Homo sapiens: one gene and its partner. The protein of the gene in region 2 purifies or fractionates together with the protein of the main gene of each other region. This does not show direct contact. Each region holds a gene or a part of one and is shown on either strand. Other genes may lie near its edges.

Region 1 (3,345 bases), on a different chromosome or scaffold from region 2:
AGGGATTCGAGTTGGATTCCAGTTTAAACATCCACAGAGCCTTTAGGCTTCAGTAGCTAGTCCAGGGGAGGGGGGTACATGGAGGGTGTCCCTATGGCCTTGTCACTAAGAAAGAACAGTTCGTGACTTATCCACTGCGTGTGAATTCAGCGAGATTGGGGAGGGAGGTTTCTTAGGGATAGGGCAGCCTCCACACTCCCATTGCTCCTCTACTCAGGGAAAGGGGGACGGTAGAAATGGCCTGCCTCTCCGGCCAGCACACGTACAGCCATCTCACCCCCACACGGCTCTTCCTCCACAGCCCCATTTTGGATTACACTTCACCTCCAGCCACTCCAGCCCTGGGCGCTAGTACTACAGCTCCTGGGGAAACGCCCCGGGGTGTTGGTGCCCGACTCGTCCCCCAGCCGTCTTCGGCTTCACGGGGTGGGGGAGGGACAGCCCTGACCCCATCTGCTCTCCTAGGCTGCCTAGCAGGCTCCTGTCGCCGCTCCCCGCCCCTTCTTCCAGAGTTCCATCCACTCCTGCCCCCACTCGACCAGAGTTCCTTCCACAGCAGTTCCTGGCCTGGGCGCTGTCCAGCTCCAGGCTGGGTGGTCGAGTCTTCCCTGGGCTCCGAGCAGAGGGAACTCCGCAGCCCGCCCCAGCCTTGTCCTGGGGCGCCTCTGTCCAAGTCGGTTTTCTCTTCCCTGGCCCCCACGCCTCCACCCTCCACTTCTACGGGATGCCACCTCCACGAAGGAGAAAGGAAAGGAAATACAAAGGCATACATTCCGTTTCTGTGGAATTTGCTCTTTATTTTGGGACCAGGGAAGGACCACACACAGCCCTCCAGCCCAGGGGGCGGGGGCACCGAGACGCGGGCGGAGGGCCGCACCCGAACCCTGCCCAGACGCCGCCGTCGGGAGGCAGAATCCGGGTTTCTGGGGTCGGGAGTGCGTATGCAAATGACGTGGGCGTGGTTGGCAGATCTCCCAGGAGGCCTCAGGGGTCCTCACCACAGGTCTGGGCCCTCCGACCTGCGGAAGCGAAGGGGAAGGAATTGGATCTGGGGAGGCGAGCCTGGGAGACGTCGTTAAGTGATGTTGCCAGGGTAGGGCCAGGCCGCGCTCTCGGATGCAGGATGTGTGGTAACGGGCGCTTTTACCGCGACCTGACGGGGCGGTCCTCGCCGTCGGGGAAGAACGTTTTGGAAAGAAGCGTGTCCGGGCCGTCTCTTTTCCCATACCTGGGGGCGGGGAAGGGAAGAGCGTGGTCAGATCTGGCCACGCCCCCAGGTGGAGCGGGGCCGCAGGGTGAGAGCCCCAGGGGTCCCGCTCCGCGCCTGCGCTCACCGCTGCCGGGTGACCAGGTTGAGGTAGTGGCGCAGGGAGGCGTAGTAGCGGTTCAGCTCCTCCGGCGAGGCGTCTTCGCGGGGAGCCTCGGGTTTGATGGGGTAGGCGTCGACCAGCGCCCCTAGGCAGACGAGCAGGGCCAGAAGCACTGTGGTCAAGGCGGGCCACGGCCTGCGCACGAACACCATCTGGGAAGGCGACATTGGGACGTGGGTCATTCCAAGCCTCGACCCTACACGGCGGGAGGCTGCGGCTGCCGTCGGGGCCGCGCTCCGACGCTCTCCCTGGGGCTGGTACCGGACCAAGGCTCAGCCACCGGGCTTGCTGTGTGTTCTTGGGCACTGCACCGTCTCCTGACTCAGTTTCCTCATGTCAGAGGAGCATAAGCCCTGCCTGCCTCCCCACCCCCACCCCCGCTGCTGGCCTCCTTCCCACCTCCGATGGCCCCCTCCAATCCAGTTTCCTACCACTCACCCCCAGCTTCCACCATCCCAGCCTCAGTTTCCCCACAAAACAGCCTGGGTTTCCCCAGGCTTGAGCCCCCAGCCACTCACAGCGATAGCTTGTGAAGCAGACGAGCAGGAGGTGGAAGGCGAGGGAAGTCCCAAGGGCTGCACTGCCGCAGGTCAAGCTGAGGCCTCCTCTGCTCAGCGCTTTCCTTGTGGGGCTTATATCCCCGCCTGGAAAGGGAGGGGGAGTCCCAGGGGGAGGGGGAGCCAGCAGGGGGTGGGCCCTTCTTCCTCCCTCCTTCCACCCTCGCCAGATCGCTGAGCTTATACCCAGCCAGTGCGTGATGTCTCCACCTCGCAGGAGCTGAGGGGGCAGTTGCCATGCTCAGATTCGTGGTCTCACTGGATGGGGTACCCAGCCTGAACCCCATGTTCACCCCACAGCCCCCCAGTGGCAGGTCTAGCCTCCTGAGGAAGTGAAGCGGTTGGATCTAGACTCCTGGGGCAGCCCCTAGGACCAGGGTTGAGATTCTGTCTTCCCTAGCCTGTCCGTGGATGGGAGTTGGGGGTGGGAGGGTGGACACATTCCCTCCAGTCCGTGGGATGTGTGACCACTCTTTCCAAAAGACAACCCTTTTCAGCCTCTGTTCAGTAATACCTTGGAGAAGGGCTGAGGAATGACAGGACCTTTTGGGGAAAGTCTTTCTCCTGGAGGCAGGGTGGGAGCACCTGACCTTGGCTCCTGACCTGCAGTTTATGGTGTCTTGGGGAGAGGCCTCTCTGAACACTCCATTATGTCCTCTCTCTATTAAAGAGTTGGAAAAGAGGCAGGAGGAGGCAGAAACCAATCTCCCCGCCAGAAGCAGCTGAGTCGGCCACCTGTGTATCCAGACTGGCACACACAGACCCCAGTCCAGCCATGTGTGGTATAGAGCCCCCTCCCAAGGCAGAGTGTCTCCACCCCTATGCAGGTGTCATTCAGAGCACTGGTGTCTTCTGGGCCTGAGTGATGCCAAGGCTTCCCAGGCACATGCCACTGTCCCCAGCCCATGGCAGTCTCCACTGGGCTCTAAGCCCAGATCCTTTGAAGGAAAGGACTCGTGTTTATTAAGCACCTACTATGCACTAGGTAGTGCATAATTTCGGGCATCACAAGACGATGAGCTGAGTTTATCTCCATTTTCCAGATGAGGAAACTGAAGCCCTGGGAGGTGATGGAGCAGCCAAGCTCACCCACAATTCAAACAGGAAAAGCAGGGTGAGGCAGAACCCAGGAAGAGGACCTCTCAATTGTGAGGGGCAGAAAGGCTCAGCACCTGGAGTAGCCATTGGGGCGCCAGAGGCAGGCCTGGGAGCAGGGACCCGAAGACTAAGTCTAGGGCCCACACCCACTCTGAGAGGCGGAGTAGGGGAAGGACCTTCAGACTGCCAACCCCCTCAAACCCACCTGCCCAGGAGGAGAAAGGGCTGTGGGAAGGTCTCCCCATAAAGCCCTTCCAGCTTCCTCTCCCTGGCCTCGCCAGACCTCCAGTACTTCCAGATGTCCCATCGGCCCATAGGGA
Region 2 (4,384 bases):
CTGATTACAGCTTGGGAGGACATGCTGCTTGAATCTTCCCTCCACTCTCTCCTTCTGTCTCACCTCCTCCCTGCCCCAACCCCACTCCTGCGTCAGGAGCACAGTTGCTCTTGCTCCGAAGCTGGGGAGGCCTTGAGTTCAGCCTGGGGGTCGCCAGGTCTGGCTGGCTCTGGGGCTTCTGAGCTCTGTGATCCTGGATGCCTCATTCCTGCTCCGAGCCTCAGCTCCCTCATATTCGGGATGGGGTTCAATCAACTCCCCGGGCCTTGAAAACTTCAGGAAAATTCCTGCCTGGTATTTTTAGTCCCGTCTTTCTCCTCAATCCACACTTCTTCTCCAGAAGCTCCTCCCATGGCTCCTGGGGATGAACAAAGGACACGTGGACTCGTGTGTTGTAGAATCTTTATTCAGGAGCTGGGCTGCCTCAGGGGCCTCCCCCTCCAACTCTATGTCCGATTGCTTTGTACCAGATCCAGCTGCTCAGGCCCTGGAAGGGTGGTGATGACCATGGTGGCCAGGGACCCATCTTGAGCATGGACGGGGATGGAAGCCTGCCAGGGTGGTGGGCTGAAGGGCGAGGTGTCCCTGGTGGGCTCAGGGTACCCAGGGCTATCTCAGAGGCAGCCGGTACACGCAACGTTCACACACAGCTCACAGTCGTCGTTAGCGATGGTCCCTGGGCAGGGAGAGAACTGGTCAGTTGACCTGAACCTGGGCCCTCTGTGGCCAGGCAGCAGAAGAGGTCTGCTTGGGAATGGGCGGCATCTTCCACAGACTGGGAGCAGGAACGTCTAGAGGTGGAGTGAGGGCTTGGGTTCAAGTCCCAGATGCTCTCCTTCCTAGCGGCCACTGGGCAAGTCACTCACACTCCCTGTGCCTGAGATTTCTTGTTTGCTAAATGGACAGGGTCACTGTGAGGAGATAATGCAGGACCGACAAGTCCCGGCACACAGTAGGTGCTCAGTAAGTGCTAGCTAGTTGCTACATTCTCGTGCCTGGCTCTGCACGATCCCTCAGGTTTCAGCTTGGCTGACACCTCCTCTTGGAAGCCTTTCACACCCCTGTCCCATCGCAGATGTCAGCCAGCTCTCCTCTCTGCTCCACGCAGCCATTGTCTGTTGATGGGTCTGTGCCTGGCGTGGACTAAGGGGACGAAGCAGGTTCCAGGCATGCCTGACTCACAGTGCCCAAACCGGGGAGTCCTGGGAGCCAGTGGGACAGGGCCTGAGTTACTTGAATCTCCCCATCCTCAGCCGCTGGGTGCTTAAGAGAAACAACCCAGGTGGAGGAGCCTGGGCGTGGGAGGAGACAGAGCGAGGTTCTGCAGGGAGCGGGGGCACTTACTCAGGGTCTTGAAGATGCTGGAAGCCTCCTGCGAGGCGCAGACAGGCTGAAGGTCCTGAGGCAGAGCAGGGTGGTGGCACACGGCGGGCAGGAGGCTCTGGGCCTGCAGGCGGGGGCTGGGTGCCCACTGTGCCTCCAGGTCACTCAGCTTCTTCATGGATTCCAGCTGGACCCGGAAGCCTTGGTACTACAGACAGGGGAGAGGAGATAGGAGCAGGTCAAGACCTGGTCCAGGGGCAGGCACTGCCATGACACCCAGGGTTGCTCAAACCCTGCAGATCCTCCAGAGCCTTCCCCGTCTCTATGGGAAGTCCAGGGCCACACTGGAAAGAGCCGCTGCGGTGAGAGGTGTGAGGAAGAAGCAGCGGGGCTGTGGAGCACAGTGGTTCGAGGCTTTAGAGACAGACAAGCCCTGGTTCAAATCCCACCTCTGCCCATGACCGGCTGCCTGTCTGTTCCCCACTCAGCCTCAGTTCCCTCATCTGACATCTCCCGTGGGGGCCTGGTACCAGGGCACAATCACTAACTGAGTACGCCTGCCTGAGCTCACATGGCAGAGTGATGGCAGCCCCAAGTAGCTGGTCTCTGAGGCCAGGGCTGTTGGGGAGGCCAAGTCTCCTGCACCCCTCTCTGGGACCCACTTTGTTCTTCCCAAGGAGACCATGCCCAGAGTCAGGGATGTGACACCCAGGGCCACAGACGTCTCTGCTATGCTGGGCGAGGCCAGCAGCATCCCCTGTGACGTGGCAGACAGGCCCTGCTGTGACGACTACTGCCACTCTCCCATGCCCCCTGGAAGGGCACTGGAACCCCCATAGTCTTCTATCTGGTCTTTGCACATGCTGTGCCCCTTGGCCTGGAACAGTTTCCCCATCATCTGTGTCTGGCAACCTCCTGTTCATCTTGCAATGCCAGCTCAAGGGTTACTTCTCAGGAAAATTTTTCTGGAGCCTGTCCTCCTCCACCTACATGTGGGTGAATATACGGAACTGTGGGAGCATAACAGGGTGTCTCCTTCCCTTTCTGGCCTCCTCCCATGCAAGGAGGAGCCTTCTGTTCCACACCCTGACCTCTGTGACCAGCACGGGCCTTTGAGGGGAGCAGCGCTGAATCAGTTTGGTGTTGTCATTGCCATCATCACTGCCATCAACATCTGGCTGCCCCCACCCACCAGCTGCCTTGGTCTCTGGGCTGTGATGGGTGTTGGGCTGAGCCCCGGGCCCCGTGCTCCCCCGGTGCCCCTCTGAATTCCCAGTACACCCTCTCCAGCCTAGCCTCCCACCATGGGGCCCTTCAGGCAAAGGGAACGCTGGCCAAGGGACTCACCTGGATGTAGACTGACTGTGTGCTCTGCAGCAGCAGCAGGAGGACCACGGCCACTCCTGGCAGGAGCCCTGATGCAGCCCTGCAGCCCATCGCGCTCCCTGGGTTCCCCCTGCCGCTGTCCACCGTCTCCCATCTGTGTCCCTGCCTAGCACCTCCTTATAGGTCAGGCTCAGGAGTCCTGGTCACTCATTAACTGGCCAGCTGGGGTGGGGTTGACAGCTAGCTGGCTCTCTGACAAGCCGGGGCTGGTTCCTAGGAAGGGGGTTGGGGGCGAGGAGGGCAGGAGCCCAGAGTCTATGGGAACACAGTGCTTGAACACCGAGTGCCTGCCATGTGCCGGGCTCTCCATGGGGGCCTTGGAGCACACCATCATTCACTCCTCAAGACACCTGTGTGGGTGTGATGACGGGGAGGCCATTTTACAGACAGGAAAAGTGAGGCTCAGGAGGGAGGGTGGCTTTCCCCAGGTCACGGAGCTAGTTAATGTCAGAGAAGGGGCTCCAGCCAGGTGTCCTTGGCCCAGGTCAGCCCATGGTCCTTTCTCTGGGGGAAGGATACAGACAGAGAGGCTGGTCCAGGGCAAAGTGGGCAGACACTGCTGATTTCAGGGTTCTCAAGACCCCACTCCCCCAAGACCCACATCTCTCTCACTCCCTCTCCTCAGTGCTATTTAACGACTATCTTTCAGACCAGTCCTGGCCCCACGTTTTGAACCTGCCTCTGCTTGCCATCTCCCACCTGTGCCTGGGTGCTTCAGGCCATGTTTGACCCATCTCACCTGTCTGTGCTTTCAGAAGCCAATAGCCTAATCCAGCATGGAGGAAAAGGCAGTAGTGTTGGAGGCAGATTGACCCGCATTCAAATCCTAGTCCTGCTGCAGCTGTGTGATTTAGGATACGTCACATCAATTCTAATGGAATCTTAGTTTTCTCTTCCATCAAATGGGCATGATACAACCCCTCTCGTAAGGTTGCTGTGAGGGCCCCGGCCCACCTGAGGTTGCCCTTATCTCCTGGGTAATGCATCCATAGCAGCCCCTGAATCTTACAGTTGCCTTCTAGGCAATGCATAACCTACTGCCCCAGTGGTTGAAGGTTGGGTCAGAGAGAAGAGGGCAAAGTCTCTAAGGGTGATATCACCACTGCCATACCAGGCAGCTGTAAACAGTGCGTGTGCCAGGGCTCAGCTCTGCCAGGCACAGACTCTGGCATGTGGCAGGCTCCCCTGACATTGAGCCTGAACGTTGGATTGAAGCCCTGATAGCTCACCTTGGCATTTAAGATGCCACTCCCAAAAGTGGCTAAAATCTGATGTCATCGTGCTTCCCCATACCAACCCTATTTGCACAGGTCTAATCCCATCTCATGTCTTTGCCTACTCATTCCACCTGCCTGAAATGCCATCTTCCTTTTTCTTATCTCAGACTGAAATGAAGAAGAAGCTCAAGTGAACTTTGGAATTTCTTATGTATTGCTTTGAATCCAGACTTCAGCCTTTGCTCTTTAGAGTCTATGGAAATGAAGGGAATCTTACATGCCCTCTAATCTGTAAAATGAAAACAACCATCTGGGAATAATAGCTCTCATTTCTTGAATACTGTGCACAAAGCTATGTTATAGTCGTAATCCCATTGAATCCTAAAGGATAGGCATAATGGTTATTCCCATTTTACAGATGAGTAACCTGAGGCCCAATGAAGCACCATGTTTGTTGT

What was found.
Region 1: the proteins of GUCA2B (region 2) and PYY purify together in Homo sapiens (affinity purification with mass spectrometry; one large-scale study listed by BioGRID and IntAct). This does not show direct contact.

The regions. Positions count from the first base shown.
Region 1 is NC_000017.11:43,951,962-43,955,306, forward strand, and holds PYY (peptide YY isoform 1 preproprotein), read right to left. Parts: upstream 1,980-3,345; 5' UTR 1,889-1,979; intron 1,523-1,888; coding exon 1,335-1,522; intron 1,229-1,334; coding exon 1,148-1,228; coding exon of another isoform or gene 1,144-1,147; exon of another isoform or gene 1,020-1,143; coding exon 995-1,019; 3' UTR 772-994; downstream 1-771. UniProt on the Homo sapiens protein: This gut peptide inhibits exocrine pancreatic secretion, has a vasoconstrictory action and inhibitis jejunal and colonic mobility.
Region 2 is NC_000001.11:42,151,827-42,156,210, reverse strand, and holds GUCA2B (guanylate cyclase activator 2B preproprotein), read right to left. Parts: upstream 2,802-4,384; 5' UTR 2,761-2,801; coding exon 2,671-2,760; intron 1,532-2,670; coding exon 1,345-1,531; intron 677-1,344; coding exon 615-676; 3' UTR 391-614; downstream 1-390.